Linked DNA regions of Homo sapiens. The protein of the gene in region 1 interacts with the protein of each later gene in a biochemical or structural test. Each region holds a gene or a part of one and is shown on either strand. Other genes may lie near its edges.

The links.
Region 2: the proteins of UBE2G2 (region 1) and RNF145 form a complex in vitro, tested with the Homo sapiens proteins (one study listed by BioGRID).

Annotation. Positions count from the first base shown.
Region 1 is NC_000021.9:44,784,503-44,788,321, forward strand, and holds part of UBE2G2 (ubiquitin-conjugating enzyme E2 G2), read right to left. Parts: intron 3,594-3,819; coding exon 3,558-3,593; intron 3,464-3,557; coding exon 3,418-3,463; intron 1-3,417. UniProt on the Homo sapiens protein: Accepts ubiquitin from the E1 complex and catalyzes its covalent attachment to other proteins. In vitro catalyzes 'Lys-48'-linked polyubiquitination. Involved in endoplasmic reticulum-associated degradation (ERAD).
Region 2 is NC_000005.10:159,199,445-159,203,263, reverse strand, and holds part of RNF145 (RING finger protein 145), read left to right. Parts: intron 1-3,819. UniProt on the Homo sapiens protein: E3 ubiquitin ligase that catalyzes the direct transfer of ubiquitin from E2 ubiquitin-conjugating enzyme to a specific substrate.

The DNA.
Region 1 (3,819 bases):
ACATACAATACAAATTATAAACACCTATTTTATTATCTCGGGTTTATTTCAGCAAGGCATAATACTGCCAAGAGATGCCCTGTGACAGTCTTCAGTCAACAAGAAACCTGGACATAAAGGGAGGCTGCTGTGCCCCGGACACTGGCCCCCAGTGTGAGAAGGGCTCCTGGTAGAAGCCGCGGCAGCCTGGGAGCCCTCAAGCTGGCTGCCATGAGCCAGCTGGAGAACCTGGGAGCATCCATCCACCAACTGGGCCCCAAACACACCATTCAGTAAAGGAAGGTCCTTCTTATTTCACCACAGCCTCTAGAACCACTGGTCTGGGGAGGTGACAGCAGTCAGGCATGAACCAGACAAGAAGGTCACCAAGCCAGCTGATTTGGGAATGCTGGGGCAGGACACAGAGGACAGCAAGCGCCAAGGGACTCCACGCCTTGTCCGGCCACTGGGGATGAACAGCTGTCTAGGACTCCTTCTGTCCCACATAAGTGCATCAATGAAAGAGGGCACCCACCCTCTCTGCAGCTACACCCCCGTCACCGTGGCTTAGTGGCAATGGGGTCACGGGCCATGGACCCTAGAGCTGGGCAAGACCTGTAACCATCTGTCTAGAAGATGCTGATAAACCTCTCTGTTTTGATCCAAATAAGTCAAAGAGAGGCAAAGTGACTGGGCCAAGAGCAGCAGGCCATGCTAGCACCCACAGCCACGGTGGCCACATCCCCTGGTGTGCCGCCATCCCAGCCACGCTCGATTTGATTGCAGGCTCAGACTCCACCATGAGCGTGGCAGGGTCAGCAGAGTTATTCCCGGTGTTTAAAGACACAGCCTGCGGACTCTCATTATTTAGTCCTCTCATTCACTAATCTGTTCTATTCTCCATCCTAATCCCTCAACCCTGGTCTTCCAAGGTAAAGATTTCAGTGCATCTTTGACATGTCTGTATCTTCAGACAAGGGCCCTAACATATCAAAGGCACTTAGTGTTTGTTGCTTAGATATCTAAAATGACATTTTCTTCACTGGCCCTTAAGGCAAGCACAACAGCAAAAACCAACAGCCGTTCGACTTCTGTGAGGCAAGCACGGGTTTTAGAAATACTAGGGTAGAGAGGCGGCCCTGGAAGCCATCAAAGAATAAAGAGAAAAAGAAGAAACTTATCACCAAGGAGCAAAGACTTGGCCAGATGTCTGCCAAAATAGCAGGGTGAGACAAATCGATGGGAGGACAGTTAATTCCCTAATAGGCATTTTAAGTGCACTTGTAAACGGCCTCTTGTTTGTGAAGGGTCTGGAACAGGACCAAAACCCACAAACTCACTAGGATCTTCAAGCAGGGGAATTCCAAACTAATGCAAAAAGCCTTGTTCAAACACAGAAGTGCTCTACCTAAAAATAGTTCTAATTACTTTTTAAGACAGGTTTTCAAAATATTGGTTTAATTTTACACTGTTTATTTAAAATTGGTAATAGTTACCCTAATCGATTTTTAACAATGAACATTTTTTTAAAACCACACTGGACGGCTCAACTGTTCCTTTAATGAGCTTCCAAATAGGCCTACGGAGGAGCCAACACCCCACAAATAACTGCAGACACGACAGGCGCCTTCAACCTCTACACACAGACAGGCCTCCCGCCACTCTGGGCCCCTGCAGCAGGCGTGCTGCCCCGCTGGCATGAGTGCAGGTGCGCCTGCATTAACACATGAAACAAGCAGGTTACACATCAGTTCATGTATATGATCTCCTGCTTCTACAGAAATAAAAAGAGCTGCCCCGATACAAGTATACAGCCGCACAGTCCACTAATGAGGACAGCCCAGACTGTGGGACTCGCCATCCATCTCATAACTGCCTTGGGGGCCACATTACACACAAACACAGATTCCAGAAACCTTCAGACACCGAAAAAACATGTGCCATAGGCCCAAGCAATTAGGATATTACAAATGATCAGGAAATGGCAGGCGTGCTGTACCATCTGAATAGCGTTTGATGATTTTTTAAAAACATTTTGTTTATCCAAAATACTAATTTTCATATCAATTTAACCTCCACAGACAACACTTAGCTGCAATCTGTTTCTCAGACCAACCCATAGAGCATTAAGAATTAATGTGATCCAAGCAACTGGCGAATTCCAAAAGCATCATGAAGCTTAAGATCACTTCAAGCCAGAGCCCACACTTGTTTCACAGCCCTCACTTTTCCGGTCCTTGCCCTCTAGAGCACTTCTCAATGCAACAAAATCCAACCCAAGACCTTGCTGCAAATTAAAAGACCTCACTAATGAGATAACAAAGACTGGGCTTGGCGCGGTGGCTCACACCTGTTATCCCAGCACTCTGGGAGGCCAAGGCAGGCGGAACACCTGAGGTCAGAAGTTCGAGACCAGCCTGGCCAACATGGGGAAACCCTGTCTCTACTAAAAATACAAAAATTAGCCAGGCACGGTGGTGGGTACCTGTAATCCCAGCTACTAGGGAGGCTGAGGCAGGAGAATCGCTTGAACCCAAGGGGCAGGAGTTGCAGTGAGCCAAGGTTGTGCCACCGCACTCCAGCCTGGGCAACAAGGGCGAAACTCCATCTCAAAAAAAAAAAAGAAAGAAAGAAAAAGAAAAGAAAGAAAACAGAGACTGATTACAAATTTCAACTTCCTAAATTTTATTTAACCTCACTTTGCTGAAAATACACTAAGAATGGCCAAAAATTGCACATCTAAGGTAGAAAGAAGAAAAAGCAAAGTGAGTCAAGGCCATAGAACACTCTAAAATCAGGGGTCCATGTGTTTCTCTTTCCAAGCAACGTCACCCTAAGTTAAATGCCACGAATCCCAGAACCACACTGCTCACTTACTAAGCCATGTCTTGGGTCGGAAAGAACACAAGGCCAACAAGTCCAGACAAGGCAACAGAAAAAGGAGATGCAGCACACGAAGATACGAACTGGGAGGAAAGGAGAAGAAAAAGAAGTCCTGGCCCAAAGGCAGGGCAGGCAAGGCTGCGCTAACATGCCTGGTGTGGTCAGACACATCTTTGAGGACCCTTTTCTCGTCAAAATTTCACACCTGAAGGGGCTACTTCTGGAAGCCAAAGCCACCTACGCCATTTGAGGTTATTTTAACCACGATCATACAACATTCCAAAATTACCACCTTAAAACTCTCAAATATATAATACATATATTACATAATTATAACTAAACCTTTGACTGGCTCTAAGGAAACACTCATTTCTTTTGGATCAATGCTCAGGTTCTCTGCTTTCAGACCAGCAGCCTAGACGAGAGCTGGGCATTACTGGAGAACTCAGTCTTTTTTCCAGCTGATGCTTTTGGACACAGTCACACTGCTGATGTGATTCTTACATCTGACTTCCAGCAAAGCCCTAAAAACTAGTACACCTAAAATTAACTTACATGATCAATGCCTCCCATTCAAAAAAGTTCTCTTCATTCATGGGGCCTGTAGGGTGAGAAAAAATTTCACAACATTTTAACTTTGAAGGAACTTTGGCAATTAAAAGTAAATTATAAGGAAGTTAACTTTGGTACCTTACCTGCTACAATTCCTTCCGGAGGATTCAGTGTTAATTCTATAAAATTAATAAGTAAAACCATTACCAAACAGAATAAATGTTACATTGTCATTTTAACAAAACACCTTTACAAAATATATAAGCCTATAAACCATAGAATATGCATATTAACAAGTGAAAATTCTGTTTGCCCAAAGTGAATACCTAGTACAATAACGGTTCTGATAACAACTACACAAAGTTTTTTTGTTTTTTTTTTGTTTTTTTTTGAGACGGAGTCTCA
Region 2 (3,819 bases), on another chromosome or scaffold:
TTATTAAGGCTACAAGAAAGTAAGCAGTATTGGATTTATTTTACTGGATAAAACTGGAAGGCAGAAGAAAACATTCTAGATTTTAATATGATGAAATATAAACAATGAGAAATACTTTTAGAGACATTTGGCCCCTTCTAATTTGTCCTTGTTTTGGGGTTTGGTAGTAATTCAGAAAGTAAGCTTTTTAAAATGCAACATTCTTTATTGTTCCCTGAGATAAACGAAAACATTAACATCAGCTGAAGATAAAGTGTTCAGTTAAATGAAATTTGGGAAATGATACTATAATACTTTGTTCCATAAAAAAAATCCTCCTGGAACTATAATTTTTTTTTTTTTTGCTTGAATCCCCTTTCAAGAAAAATGGAACTATCATTGATATGCTATGGGGTTAGTGGTAAAAATAATGATAAGAGATTGAAGAAATTAAAGTCAAGAAATACAAGCATGAAACAGATAAAATTTACCTAGAATAAAAATCATGATCCTTACTTTTTAGGTTTTGGTTTATTTGTAATGTATATAGCAATATATTTTATTAATGTTGTGATTGCAGAGTTCCAGACATGGTTTGAATGGTACTATAGTGGTTTTGCTAATATTTTATTATTAGAGTTGCCTGTCACAAAATATATCTTTTATAAAGTCATGAAGAGTTGTCCTGTCTCTCTGAGATTTATTTTTATCACTTTCTGGGTTCTAAAACTTAGCCCTGAGAACGTTCCCCTTACATCCCTAAGAGGTAAGCTGTTGTGGAAAGAAGTATGATGTAGTAGAAGAGATGGTGCACTAGAAACAAAACGTTTCGGTTCAGTAAACTCATCTTTTGTGGATAGCACTACCTTGGGAATGTCTCTGAAATGGGAAAGTTCCTTTATGTTGCAAAACACTGTAATTCTCAGCCTTTTATGAAAGGCTTTGTATGTTAGCCAATTTATGGAAAGTAATTCCCGTCAGTTGTAGAACAACTGGGTACTTGGCTTAGATTTTTAGATTAATCAGCAAAGTCATACATACTGTGGTTTTAAAAATGTGCTTATATATTGTTTCTGAATAGGTTGAAATATTTATTATAAAAACAGCTGCCTGATAACCAGGAATATTAATTTTAGAAATTGAATGTTTTCGAGTACAATTGAAGTTCATAATCTGGTTTATAATTTTATAAAGTTAGTTGAGCCATCTTAAATATGCTTACTCCATGCCAAAGTAGAGTAAGCTCAGTGGTTGCATGAACAGATATTTTCAGCTTGAACAATGTTTTGGTTGGAGTTACCTTTGTCAAAATATTACATAGTGTTTATGTAATGCTCCTGTTTACAGAATTTCACCCTCAAATACAAATCAAATTTCACCTTAATAAAATAATGTATCTACATTCAGAAATAAAAAAGCATAAAAAGTATTTAATGAAAAGTATCTCCCTCCCATCTCTGTTACTCATTCGCTGAGTTCTCACTCTGAACACCATGTAGCTTTTATTTCTTTCTGTATAATTCTAGAGATATTTTTATGTATATATAAGTAAATATAAAAAATGTATATTTCCCCCCTTTTTATACAGATGTTAGCATGGTATACATGGTTTTGAATCATGGTTTTTGTTTGTGATGTATGTGGAGCCATAACTACTGCTTTTAGATATTTATGAAATAGAGTTTTGTGCTCTTTTTCTTATGATGACAGTCTGCCGGATCTTAAAGACTCTCTTGAGTAGATATCGAGGCCTCATTTCTCCTCTTCCCGATTGCATTTTACGTTGGCATAGTATCTTCGTATGGATATACCATAATTTATTGAACTAATTACTCCATTGGTGGACATTTTAGATAGCCTACCTTCTGCTATTTTGTACAGCGTTGTGCTAAATAACTTTGTATAGCTATAATTTCAACAAGTACAAATATAACCTGGGGCTAAGTTACTAGAAGCGAAGTTGCTGGGTTAAAGAGTACAGTGGTCCGTCGGTGTATGCTGGAAGTTGGTTCCAGGATGCCCACGTATACCAAAATCTGCGCATACTCAGGTCCCTCAAGTGACCCTGTGGAACTATGTATGCAGAAGGTTGGCCCTCTGTATACGTGGGTTTTGCATGTTGCAAATACTGTATTCCATAAGAGTTTGGTTGTAAAAAATCTACATGTAAGTGGACCCTCACAGTTCCATCCTATGTTGTTCAAGGGTTAACTTATATATATTTGTAGTGTTGACAGATAGTACTTTCCATAGGGTTTTACTATTTTGTACCTCCAAAAACCGTGGTTGAGAGTTCCTACAATCCTATATTATCAAAACAGCCTGTTACCACAAATATTTTGGCTACTCCAATAGGTGGAAAAATTGATTTTTTTAACTCAATGTAGTTTTAGTTTGCATTTCTATTATGAATGAATTGAACATACACATACTTAAGAAAAACCTGTATTTTCTCTTCTGAGAGTTGTCAGTTTATATACCCTGCCCACTTTTCTGTGAGATTCTTTTTTTACCAATTTGTGGGAATTTGGTATACATTAGGGAAATTAATCCTTTGTGATAAGTTGAAAATAGTTTTTCCAGTTTCAACTCAGTGATTTTGCTTATGATTTTTTGACATTTAGAAGGTTTTTAAGCTTTAGTATTTTGAGTCAATTAGAAAAGCCTTCTTTATTCTTGAGTTTATAAAGAATTCTGTTGTATTTTATCTTACTATTTTTGTGGGTTTATTTTTACATTTAAATCTTTGCTTCATTTATCTGTATGAATAGTGTGTTATAGGTATAATTTTATTTTTTCTAGATAACCACACAGTCATCCTCACCTATTTAGTCCATTTTTTTCTCATTATATACTGAATTCTCACATATATTTTGTTTCATTTTTGAACTTCTCTTCCTTTAGTCTGTCTGCCTGTTTGTGAACTATTAACACGCTGTCTTATTTGTTGAGGGTTTAGATTATATTTTACTGTCTAACAGGGTTAGTCCCTTCAGTTTTCTTTATTTCCTCCTCTGAGCTTTTTTTTTATGGTTAGTTTTCTATGTGAATTTAAGAATTGTCTCAAAATTGTCTAGGTCTCATTCCAAAAACAAAGCAACCCATTTGATTTTTTTTAAAATTTAGATTGCATTATTACTAATTTTGGGGGCAGGTGGGGAGGATGGGTTCTTGCTGTGTTGCCCAGGCTGGCCTGGAACTCCTGGGCTCAAGTGATCCTCCTGCCGCAGCCTCCTGACATTTATTGTTTCTAGGTATTTTATCTTTTTTATTGCTATCGTAAGTGGGAGTTTTTCCCCCTTTATGTCTTCTAATTGTAATTAAGGAGCTTAAAAATTAAGGGAGGGAGCAATAAAGTTTGTATTTAATGGAATGTAATTGTGTCTTCAAACTTAGAAGCTTTCCAGGGTGGGTTCTGCTGAAAGAGAAGTGACTGCCCACTGTTTTTTGGAGTGTAGGATATGAAAGGAGGAGTAGAAGTAATATTGGTAAGGTAGAATAGGGCTTTTGTGAAGAATCCTGAATACATACAGTAGATATGGTGCTTAATTCTATAGGTCGTGGTGGGTCAGTGGGGATTTTAGAGCAGGTGAGCTGCATTTTAAGATTGATTAGGCAGCGTTTTATAGGATGATGGATTGGGGAGGGGAGAAACTGGAGGTAAGAAGACCAGTTAGGATTTTAGGCAAGAGGTAATGAGAGCCAGAACTGGCAAGGTAGAAATTAGAAAGGAAGAAATGGATGCGAAAATCCTTTTGAAACTACCATCACTAAAATCATTAGTGACTTAAAATGTAAAATTCAACCCTCATTTATGTCCTAATTCTACAGACTTTTCTA